3 linked regions of the Homo sapiens genome follow. The protein of the gene in region 2 interacts with the protein of the main gene of each other region in a pairwise test. Each region holds a gene or a part of one and is shown on either strand. Other genes may lie near its edges.

What was found.
Region 1: the proteins of SAXO1 (region 2) and MAPK9 interact in binary tests that used the Homo sapiens proteins (3 or more experiments, as listed by UniProt).
Region 3: the proteins of SAXO1 (region 2) and SORBS3 interact in binary tests that used the Homo sapiens proteins (3 or more experiments, as listed by UniProt).

Annotation. Positions count from the first base shown.
Region 1 is NC_000005.10:180,282,036-180,285,688, reverse strand, and holds part of MAPK9 (mitogen-activated protein kinase 9), read left to right. Parts: intron 1-3,653. UniProt on the Homo sapiens protein: Serine/threonine-protein kinase involved in various processes such as cell proliferation, differentiation, migration, transformation and programmed cell death.
Region 2 is NC_000009.12:18,949,669-18,953,321, forward strand, and holds part of SAXO1 (stabilizer of axonemal microtubules 1), read right to left. Parts: intron 1,270-3,653; coding exon 1,090-1,269; intron 1-1,089. UniProt on the Homo sapiens protein: May play a role in the regulation of cilium length. Stabilizes microtubules at low temperature.
Region 3 is NC_000008.11:22,554,776-22,558,428, reverse strand, and holds part of SORBS3 (vinexin), read right to left. Parts: intron 3,567-3,653; coding exon 3,449-3,566; intron 1,715-3,448; coding exon 1,521-1,714; intron 301-1,520; coding exon 237-300; intron 1-236. UniProt on the Homo sapiens protein: Vinexin alpha isoform promotes up-regulation of actin stress fiber formation. Vinexin beta isoform plays a role in cell spreading and enhances the activation of JNK/SAPK in response to EGF stimulation by using its third SH3 domain.

The sequences.
Region 1 (3,653 bases), on a different chromosome or scaffold from region 2:
GGCCTCCCACAGTGCTGGGATTACAAGTGTGAGCCATCTTGCCCAGCTGGAAAACAGAACAATTTAATGAAAAAAATGTCGGCAGCAAGCATTGAGACAGAGGGTGATTGTGAGAATCTGCTTTTAATCACAATAGTTAGTTGATTTAAATATCGCATGTCCTGGGTACTCTGAAGCTTTAGTGTGATGAAAGGTTCACTTGAGTCTGTGGATCACTGAATCGTTGTCATCGTTAGAGGAAAAAGTGTTTTGGTAGGTTTTGGTAGGGGGAGTCAGCAAGGTGAAATGTGCAGGACTGTGTGCTGGTCCTGGCCAGCCCATGTGCAAATAGCTTCACTTTCTAAAGGGATATCAGAATGGTGCTTTGGGAGGAACTTGAATATTGTGGTGAAACACTCCTAAATTCAAATCTGAGCCATGCTGGGAATTTGGACAACTTCCTTACTGGACAACTTCCTCTAAGCCTCAGTTTCCTCATTTGCAGAGCGGGGATAGTAATATGCTTCTCACTAGTTGTTATAAGGGTGTTGATAAATGTGTACCTCAGAGCCAGGCCCACTCTCATGCCTCTAGCCTTATCTGCCTGAAGCCCGTCTTCCATACAAGTGTCAAATGATCATTCTGCAGCTTTTCATTTAACATGTGTTGTTTAATCAGTTTTTAAATGTGAAATATGTACATTTGAAAAACAGAATAGAAAGTTATAATGGGAAGAAAGTTTCTCATTTCCCACTATTTCTCTACTTGCCAGCATTGTGTATGTGCGTGTGTATGCGTGTGTGTGTGTTTACGTAGCTGGGCATTATGTGTTCTCTTCTTCAACTTGGTGTATTTCCTTTCTGTATCTTAGACATCTTTCCACATTGATACATAAAGTCCTTGCATTCTGTTGAATGGCCTTGTTGTACTTCTGTGCCATAATTTATTCAGTCCATCCACAGTGTGCATTTTAGATTACTTCTAGTTTTTTGCCTGTTACAAGAAGTGTTACAAACATGCTTGCACAAATATGTTTGGATACTTGTACACGTATTTGTCAGATACACTTAGAGAATTGTGTTTGCCAGTTTAGGATATGCAGTTAACATTTTTATTAGCCAGATCTATATTCCATCTAAAAAAATGTTTTACCACTTCTCAGCTCTCACTGACGTGTATGAAAGTGCCTGTTTCCTCATGCCTCGGTCGATACTGTGAACAAACTTGAGCTCAGGTCTTGCCTCCTCCAGGAAACCTCCTTGTAGCGTTCCCTCCCAGTTTTGAGTTGCTCATAGCCTGGAAGGGAGGCAGACCCTACAAAGGCTGTGACAGTGCAGCCTGGCGGGCGCTGCTGAGTGCACAAGTGGCAAGGAGGGAGCCCTGTGCTGGACGGATGGTGGCAGCACAGCCTGGGAGCTGAGGGGGAGGAACCAGCACCGGCTGGTGTGGGAAGTGGAGGCAGCGAATGCAGGCTTTAGTGTATTGCTAATGTGGTTTCATGAAGAATTCTTGTACTTCCCGATTTGTAAAACTGTTTTCTGAGCCCCAGTTGATGGTCCATTTTGTTGAAATATCATCTCAATAGAGTTGACTCATGAATAGCTAAATTACACACCTTCTCAGGTGGCCTTAAGTTTCTTTCTCTTGCTCTCACAAAGCCCAAACTTGACAGAGAAGGTGGCTTTAACAGGTTTTCACTTAGGTGACTTTTTTCTCCTGCATAATAAGGGTACCTTATTTTAATTTTATAATTATTTTAAATCTTTTTGTTTGTTTGTTTTTGAGATGGAGTCTCGCTGTGGCCCAGGCTGGAGTGGCACGATCTCAGCTCACTGCAATCTCCACCTCCCGGTTCAAATGATTCTCCTGCATCAGCCTCCCAAGTAGCTGGGATTACAGGCACGCACTACCACACCCGGCTAATTTTTGTATTTTTAGTAGAGATGGGGCTTCACCATGTTGGCCAGGCTGTTCTCAAACTCCTGACCTCAAGTGATTCCCCCACGTTGGCCTCCCAAAGTGCTGGGATTACAGGTGTGAGCCACCATGCCCGGACTATTTTAAATCTTGAGATGGAATTACAATTCTAAAACCTAATATGAGTGAATATACTCCCCAAATTTAAAAAAGTTAACCTAATATTGTCATAGTCCAAATATAGGTTGAAAGCAGTTATAGCAGGGAGAGTTGCAGAGTTGGTCAGCAGGGTTGAGATTGATCTGTCAGTCCCAACGTGGACACGGGGTCCTGAATGGGGGGTGGCTCTGTGCCATGAGGTAGTTAAGGAATCCAGCTGGTGGGCAGCTTTCCATCTACAGCATGTGACTTCCATCTCTGGGTCTGTGACAGCTGATCCCTCAGCCAGCAGCAAGGAAGAAAGATTGGAGGGCAAGCAGCTTTCTGTAAAGAAAAATAAAAGTGATCTGGAAGTTGCATACATCACTTCTACCCACATCTTATTAGTCAGAACTTGGTCATCTGGCCATACCTGGCTGCTGGGAAAGCTGCCAGGCGTCGTCTCTAGTTGGGCAGCCATTTATCTAGCAGGAAGGGGAAGGAAGGCTTCTCTTATGAAAGCGAGGAAGGGAGGGATGGATCCTGGAGCACCTCAGCGCCTGTGTCGCACCTCTGATGTTTTGACGGCTTCCACAGCCCTCAGGACTGAGGCCAGACGGCTCTGCGTGGCTTCTGGGGCTCATAGTGATCTGGCCTCCTTTTCTCTCTCCAGCTTCACTCGCCCTCTACCCAGCAAGTCCCTAGTGACTTGTCACATTCCGAATGTGCCTCCGCCTCTGCTGCTTCTCCTCCCATTCCCCCAAATCTTCTTCACCCTACTGGGTTTAGGACCCTTGGTGTGCAGGGCCTCCTCCTGAGTGTGCGCTCACTGAGGGCAGGCGAGTGTCCTGGCATGGTACCTCACCATCCACAGCGGGTGCTCAGTACATGCTTGCAAGTAACTGTGTTGCTGGTGTGTTGACGGCATAGCAGAGGAACAGCCACCCTCCGTAAAGCAGGTGGTAGTGGGTGCCTGCCTTTTTGCTGAGTTGTCTCTAATCCTTTGCACTTGTACCCCGCTAGCCAAGCTCAGCAGTTCGCTGTGTCTGGACACAGTCAGTTTGAGCTCTGTGGCTCTACTGTCCATCTCTGGCAAAAGAGTCTGAGGGCGGATGCCGCCTCCTCCTTGAAGCCGTCCTTGTCTTCTGCCCCTGCCAGTGGGTAGGATCTCTTTTGCCTTTTGATTTTGTTTACATTGTGCTTATGGCCCTTACCGCACTGTGACTTGTAATATAGATAATGGACTCACTGCTCGCGCTTCTCCCCCAAATAGTGAAGTACATGTTGTTTCAAGACTGGTTGCTAGCTGACTATGGCATATCTTTTGCTATACTTACCACTTTCGTGCATAAAGGTACCCCCTAAATGTTGAGTGGAATTGTTTCAGCCTCTTGCAAACTGTAAATAAGCTAATCTTTAGAAAGGATCTTCCTTTAGATATCAGTAAAATGGAGCAGCACTGTGGGGAATCAGATCAACAAAGGTTTATTGAATGCTCACAGTGCCCCAAAGACCAGCTTCCTGTCCTCCTGTCCTTGGAGTATGAGATGCCATGAGCAAGACAGACCTGCCTCGCACCTCCTATAGCTTAGAGCACAGTGACCTGCCAGCCTGGAGAG
Region 2 (3,653 bases):
CTCCAACTCACAGTCTCAGATGTTTCCAGTCCTATTCTGGAGAAAACCTGAAGGCAGAATGAATTAGAATGGTTCTGCTTCACCTAGACCATCTGGGACCTTTACTAGCACAAAATCATGAAGCAAAAGGGAGCAATAGGAAGAAAAGTCACCAGGTCTGAGGCACCGATGTGCAAGCATTGTGCTGGAACAGTCAACATTCACCATCATCTCCACCTCACAGCAACCCTGCCCTTTAGGGATGAGGAACCGGGAAGGCAGAGAACACATCAATCTTTCAGGGCTCAGCTAAGGACAAAACTATACAATCTGAGACTGCCCAACTGCACTCAAAGATGTTTCCACTCTACTAGATCACCAGTCACAGGTCACTAACTGAGTTGTCCATGGCAGATTCTGCAAGAGCCTTGCTTATAGACCAACCCTGAACTGATAACTTTTCTGCACCCCCTCAGTAGAAACACCTCTGCAACGCTAATATACTGAACCATGTGGCTCAGCCTCTGCACAGACCTAGAGCTAAACAATCTTAGTTTGGGAGTCAAGAATAATTTAAAAGCAAAACATTATTTGTTCATCTTTCTTGAAGAACATTCAGGAGAACCCCAATTCAAAATTTACAGCAGCATAATTTTAAGGGGAGAAAAAAAAGCTCATTTTTTCTCTATTGCCAAGTTCCCTTTCACCACCACCACCACCATCCCCCACCTACCCAAGCTGGCCTGGAGCTTTTCATGTAACAAAGCCCAAAACTTGCTTTTCAGCAACATCCCCCACTCTTTCCATCCCTTAAATATTTTTCTTAACCTCCAATCCTATATTATATAGATTAATCCAGCCTTTCCCCACCCTTTACTTCAGCAAGCAAGAATCCTTTCTCTTTAACAGAGAATTTGGAAAAAACTGAGAAGGCTCATAAATGCAGGATATTCCTTCAGAGATATAGTACATTAAGGCATTAATATCATATGTTGATACTGCACATTAATGCATTAGCACTGCACATTACATTAATATTATACATTAGCACTGCATGTTACTCCATTAGTGTTGTATGTACCTGCATACATTAATACTGTTTGCCCTCACCTTGATGTAGTCAGGCCTTCCATTGGTATAGGCCCTTTCTGGTACTCCCGCCTTGGCTTGAAGGACTCTCTGGGCAGGTAGGAGTGATAGAAAGGGTAGTTCTCGGTATATTCGGAGAGAAGACATGGTTTCTCTGTTTTATCATAAATCTTGGTAGGGAGATGTGGACAGTGATGCCGCCTATAAAAGACACAGAGTTAGGTTGATTACCTTCTTGGGAGAAAAAAACCCAATTTCCTAAGAGTACTTCCGCCAAATGTGACTCAGACTGTAAAATCATGTGACTGCCAACATTGAAAACCAGAATTCAACGGTTACTTTTTTCCACTAAACTACGTGAAGTGGCCAGAATATAAAGGTGGTCTGTAACTACAATTGGTTAATAAAAATTCCTTGGATCAGAGAATTACACACAAGCTGTCACACATGCCACATTGCTTGTGTAAGCAGGGAAATATTTCCATACCATAATAGAGAAATGGCTGTGTCCCCAAGCTCTCCGAGTGCCACCCAGCTGCCCCAGGTCCTCCCCTGAGGTCTCACAACAGCCCAGGAATTCAGGGCTTACTACTGACCTAACAGGGTGCTCCAAGGCTCTCCAATAGGGCCAGCCAGTGTCTTTTGTAACTGGTTAGCTCCTGGGTCAACTCGGAATATCATCACTGTACACAAATGACATCATTCAAAGCAAAATCACCTTAGTTCTGAGTCCACCAGACACCACTGACTATGTGAAACCACTTTCACATTGAAAGTCTCCCTCATTTATTCTTTCAGGTCTCACCTCAGTTATTACAGCCTTAGAAAGACTTCCGCCAATCATCTTATACCCAGGATCCACCTCGCCGTCGTATCCCCTCTCCCCACTACTCTTCCCTGTGTGTGCACATATTTTCTCCCATCACCCTGTGTATGCCTGTCCCATCACTTATAGCTACCTGTGACTGGCATGTCTGTTGGCAAGTTTGTTTATTGTCTGTCTCATCTGTCAAGCTCAGGGCCTTTATCAACCTTGTTCACTGCTACACTGTACGTGTACACTGTACATTTTTCAACCTTGTCCACTGTTCATCGTACATGATGTACATCTCTATATATCATATCCTAAATTTTTCATTCAGTAAATGTTTACTGCATACTGGCACATTCGGTAAATATTTATTGAATGAAAGACTGAGTGTATACGTGAATAATTAAATAAACTTTATACCTAGTGATGAATGAATTGAACAAATGATAAATAGTATTTAGCAGTTAAAATTTATAGTGAGCTTTTCCATTTTACTTGCATGGTAGTAAATGAAACTTACTTATTTACTTACTACTTACAGCTGGACTGAGTCAGCTATTAAAGCTGTCAAAAACTAAGTGAAGGCATTTTATCAATTTTGTGTGTGCCCACAATCTTCACAATCCAGCTGGGGTCCCTCTCATCATCAGGCACCAGCACATCAGCAAAAACTCCATGCTGGTGTTTTCCAACTTAGCTACCTTCATGAATGGCATAGCATTGTTTTCCCATTTTCACACTGGACTGATTTTTCATCACAGAAATTAAAATGCAATACTTTGGGGAAGTACATGGGGGAAGGGAGATAAAATGAGAGAAAGAAACCAAGAATTCCTCACTGCTCTAATGTAAAGCTATTTTCCAGGCAACAGCTGGCATGCTGCTCCTGCTAGTAAGTTCAACCTTTTATATAAATATTACTGCCACCACTGTTGTTACTATGTACATCTCGTCCATCTACTCTCCAGAGAAAATCATCAACACCTGTACTGTTCATATGGCTAGAATTGCATATTAACAAGTACCATTAGAGATATCCCTACTTATTTTCTTCTCACCTATAGATTTGTTATCAGAAATGCCTTAAGAAGGCATGAAATTGCCTGATTTACTTTGTATTATAAAAGCAGTATTGATTCATGGTAAATATTTTAGATATTCCTCATCATGTACAAGGAAAATCTTCCACAAATATGCTGTCCTTATAGTATAAATATCTAAATTTCACAGTGTTAAATACAATCAAGAAAAGTGTGCTTTTTCTTTTTCAGCATGCACATTCTTGGCACTTAGTGTACAAAGCTATGTATTTCTATTTTATACCCCTTTAATAAAATATCTCCTAATTGTTGGCAAATAAATTGAGAACTTTAAAGTATCTTCTGCACATTCAAGAGACAAATTGTTATGTTTGCATAGTAAACCAATGACCCATCGCCCACAGCGGATGCATGTTAAATATTATTGCCATTTCTGTGCTCACAATCGGTCCGACTATCTGAGATTTCAATTTAAGCCAACTAGTACCCTATCATTTTAGGATTCCGACAAACCTCAGATCGAAAGCCAAGAAGCACTGGCTACCAAAAATACCTCTGCATGTATATTTTATTCACCCACATTCTAAAAGAAAAGTCAAGATTTTATTCAGGATAACTTAGTTTCAGGCACTTATAATAAAATGGGCTCCACAGGCAGAGTGATTACTTTCCCTTTTCAGTGCCCCTGTTTTTTAAACTGGTAAAACTACTTTCATATAACCCCCTTTCCATAT
Region 3 (3,653 bases), on a different chromosome or scaffold from region 2:
GAGGACACTGTGGGACAGTGGCTGGTCAATGTTCTTCTTGGGGATGCTCTGGAGACCGCTGCTGGCCCCGAGTACAGGGAGGGGACTGCCTATTTTCAGGACTACTCATTAGAGCCTGGGAGAAGGTGGAGAAGAACCCCTTGAGCAGCTAAGTCCCCTTTTCTTTCCCTGTCTCTCCAAGCCCCAGGGGCCAGAATCCACTTTGGCAGGGAGAGGGCCCTGGAAGGGTATCTTACCTGGCATTTTCCGGTGAATCTGCTGGAACATTCTCCGGTACCAGTCTCTGGGTCTGTCAACGCTCTGGGATCAGAAAATGCAAAGTCAGTCCTCCCTGCTTATTCACCCTCCCAATTTCAAGCCACAAAAATCTTTCCCTAGTGAGTCCCTTCTCTGGCCATCCCTGAACCCCCCATAGGTGGGCTGGGAAATGCTTCTCTTGCGATCTCTTTAATAACAATAGCTTCATGTAACACGTCCTATATAAGTAAGATATATGACAAGATCTCCATCGAAGTGTATGCAATAATGATGTTATGAGATTTGGGGCAATTTACATTTTTTCTCTTTGCTTTTCTTTATGTCTAGTGTTTCTACAAAGAACATTTTTCTTTTGTGGGGAGACAGGGTCTCCTGTGTCACACAGGCTGGAGTGCAGTGGCATGATCATAGCTCACTGCAGCCTCCAATTCCTGGGCTCAAGCAATCATCCTGCCTCAGCCTCCTGAGTAGCTGGAACTACAGTCGTGCACCACCTTGCCTAGCTAATTTTATTTTATTTTTTTTTTTATAGAGACAGGGTCTCACTATGTTGCCCAGGCTGGTCTGGAACTCTTGGTTTCAAGCAATCCTCCCGCCTTGACCTCCCAAAGTGCTGGGATTACAGGCGTGAGTCACTGCACCTGGGCCAAAAATGACAGCAATAATGTAGGAGTGAGATGCGTGTTTCACATCACCTGCTTCATCCAAGCCTCAAAACAGCCTCAAAACAGGAAGGGAATGTTACCAGCTCCAATTTCCAGATGAGAAAATGGAGCTGGCTCAAGACACAAAGGTGGATGGAAAAGGGCAGGGTATCCCCAGTCCTAACTGGACCCCCGGATCCTTCCACGCTTGCCACAGTGAGAGACCTTCTCACACAAGACTCACTCACTCATTCGGCCGGTCAGTCATTCATTCAGCAACCATTTCATGAGCGTCGTGACAGGCCCTGGGGATATGAAACTAAGAGAGGGTCCCCTGCAGCCTCAGGCCTTACAGCAGGGGTTCTCTACCTTTGAGGCCCTGATGAGAGTTCTAGATCTGTACCCCGCACAAACCACTTGAGCAACTCAGGCACACGAGGGTGTCTGCAGCTTTATGAGGTTTACAGCCGCTGAACCCCACCACGGTTGAACCCCTGCTTAATCTGGGATGGTTTGGGTGCGGCCTTTATTGCCCCACCCCCATTTTAATGCACAGAAGTGCAGCTCCCTGTAGATCCCTGGGCCCCATCTCTCCGTGGCCCCCAGCCCTGGACTCACGGATCGGGGGGCAATGGGCATGCCGCTCTCGTCCACGGGCCCGATTCCCTCGTACTTGACCCAGCGCTTGTCCCGACGCTTGCTGTCCTTGGTCCACGTGGCTGACCAGTTCTGGGTGTGCTGGGAGGCAGGGATCTTTGTGCTTGCAGAGGGCTTGCTCCCAGGGCCTGGCCAGGTCTGATACCACGCAGGGTCTGTTGGGTGCGTGCAGGAGAGCATTAGTGAAAGGCAGGGGTCTCCACCTGAACCTGTGTGTCCCTTAGCTCCTCAGAGCATGGATCTCTGTGGGTTCAAAGTTTCAACATCGCCTTGTTTGTTTGAGTGGATGACTCAGAGCACCACGGGCCTCTGTTTGTTTAAGTGAATTTAAATGGATTTGATCTTGAGAATGCCGTGCCTGGCCCTACCCCCATCCTTCTTTCCTGGGACTATCCTAAGTGCTTTCAGAATAAGGTCTGGAAATCATTACTTGTAGAGAATGCAGGGGACATCCCAGCTGGGGTGTGGCAGTAAAGATGCTGGGCTTAGAGGGGACAGACTTGAATTCAGACCCCAGCTCTACCACCTATTGGCTGCCATGGCCTGGGGTACATCAGTCACCTTCTCAGTGTCTCAGTTTCCACTTCTGTAAAACAAGGGTCATTGTGACAAGGATTCAGTGACATCTAGCGTGTGTGACTGTACCCAGCACAGTGCCTGGCACACAGTCGAGAGGCTCTCAGTGAAGGTCAGAAACCCATTCCCCAGACATGGTTGTGACTGAGTCCTCAACTTACCCATAAGTGTTAGCCTCTAAGTAGCTAGGGCAGCAGAATAAGGGCTTTGAGGCCAGATGTACAAGTGTGTGAATTGCAGCTCAGCCTCTATGGCTGAACATCTCTGCGAATGGGGTTCCTTACTGGGAAGCTGTCAGTCATCATCACCCCTACTTTGTCAGGATATCGAGGGGTTAAACGAGGTGAGCCTCGTAAAGTGTTTTTACAGTGTCCAGCACGCTCTGGGTGTTCCATAATTGTGTGGGTGTTTTTTTTGGTTTTGTTTTGTTTTTGTTTTTGTTTTGAGACAGTTTTGCTCTTGTTGCCCAGGCTGGAGTGCAGTGGCACGATCTCAGCTCACTGCAACCTCCACCTCCCAGGTTCAAGTGATTCTCCTGCCTCAACCTCCCAAGTAGCTGGGATTTCAGGCACCCGCCACCACACCCAGCAAATTTTTGTATTTTTATTAGAGATGGGGTTTCACCATGTTGGCCAGGCTGGTCTCGAACTCCTGACCTCAGGTCATCCACACACCTCAGCCTCTCAGTGTGTGTGTGTTTTAAGTGACAGGGTCTTGCTGTGTCATCCAGGCTGATAGAGACAGGGTCTTGCTATGTTGCCCAGGCTGGATAATTGTTAAATGAATAAATTCCTTTACACAGCACCTGTCTTAGGGGAATGCTTGATAAAGGATGTCACTTTAGGAGAGACATGTTCAGGGCTGGCCTGCACCCAGGAGTTCCCAGGACCTCTGGACTGGGATCTAGAACTGCCTCTCTAACCTCCTGCTGGGTAGCCTGTTGGGCCTGAATGGGACAGTCTCCACCCCTTCCCAAGCCAACAGATACCCACATCACCTCCACCCTTCCATCCCCAGTCCCTGTGGGAGGTCCTCCGGCGCCCAGGGCTCCTGCACGCTTCCTTTCCCTGGCACCAGGCTGGAGGGCAGGGGAAGGGATGCATCAGCCTGCTCTCCCCAAGCGGGTGTCTCTTGCAGAGTCAGCAGGCTCCGCAGGGAGGGGCTCATAGTGAGCCCAGAGGCCTCTGAGGAACCTCCTCATGGCCTTGAGAACCCCATCTCCAGCTGCTGCCCCTCCCGCTTGACACAGGGCAGTGCCAGATGGCAGGGCCCTGACCCTCCATCTCCAGCATGAGGCTCCTGAGCAGACCTACCCGGGTGCTGGGAAGCATCTCGTCTTGGTGTGTAGCCCCCATTGCACACAGTCCTGGGCGCGGGGTCGTGGAACTGGAAATTAAGGGTGTTGGAGCCACCATTCCGGATCACGGGCACCTGCGGGGAGGGGCCAGGAGCGGCAGCTCAGGGCCCAGCAGGGCGGGAGGGAGGGATGGCTACTAGGCACAGCCCACACCCCTCGGT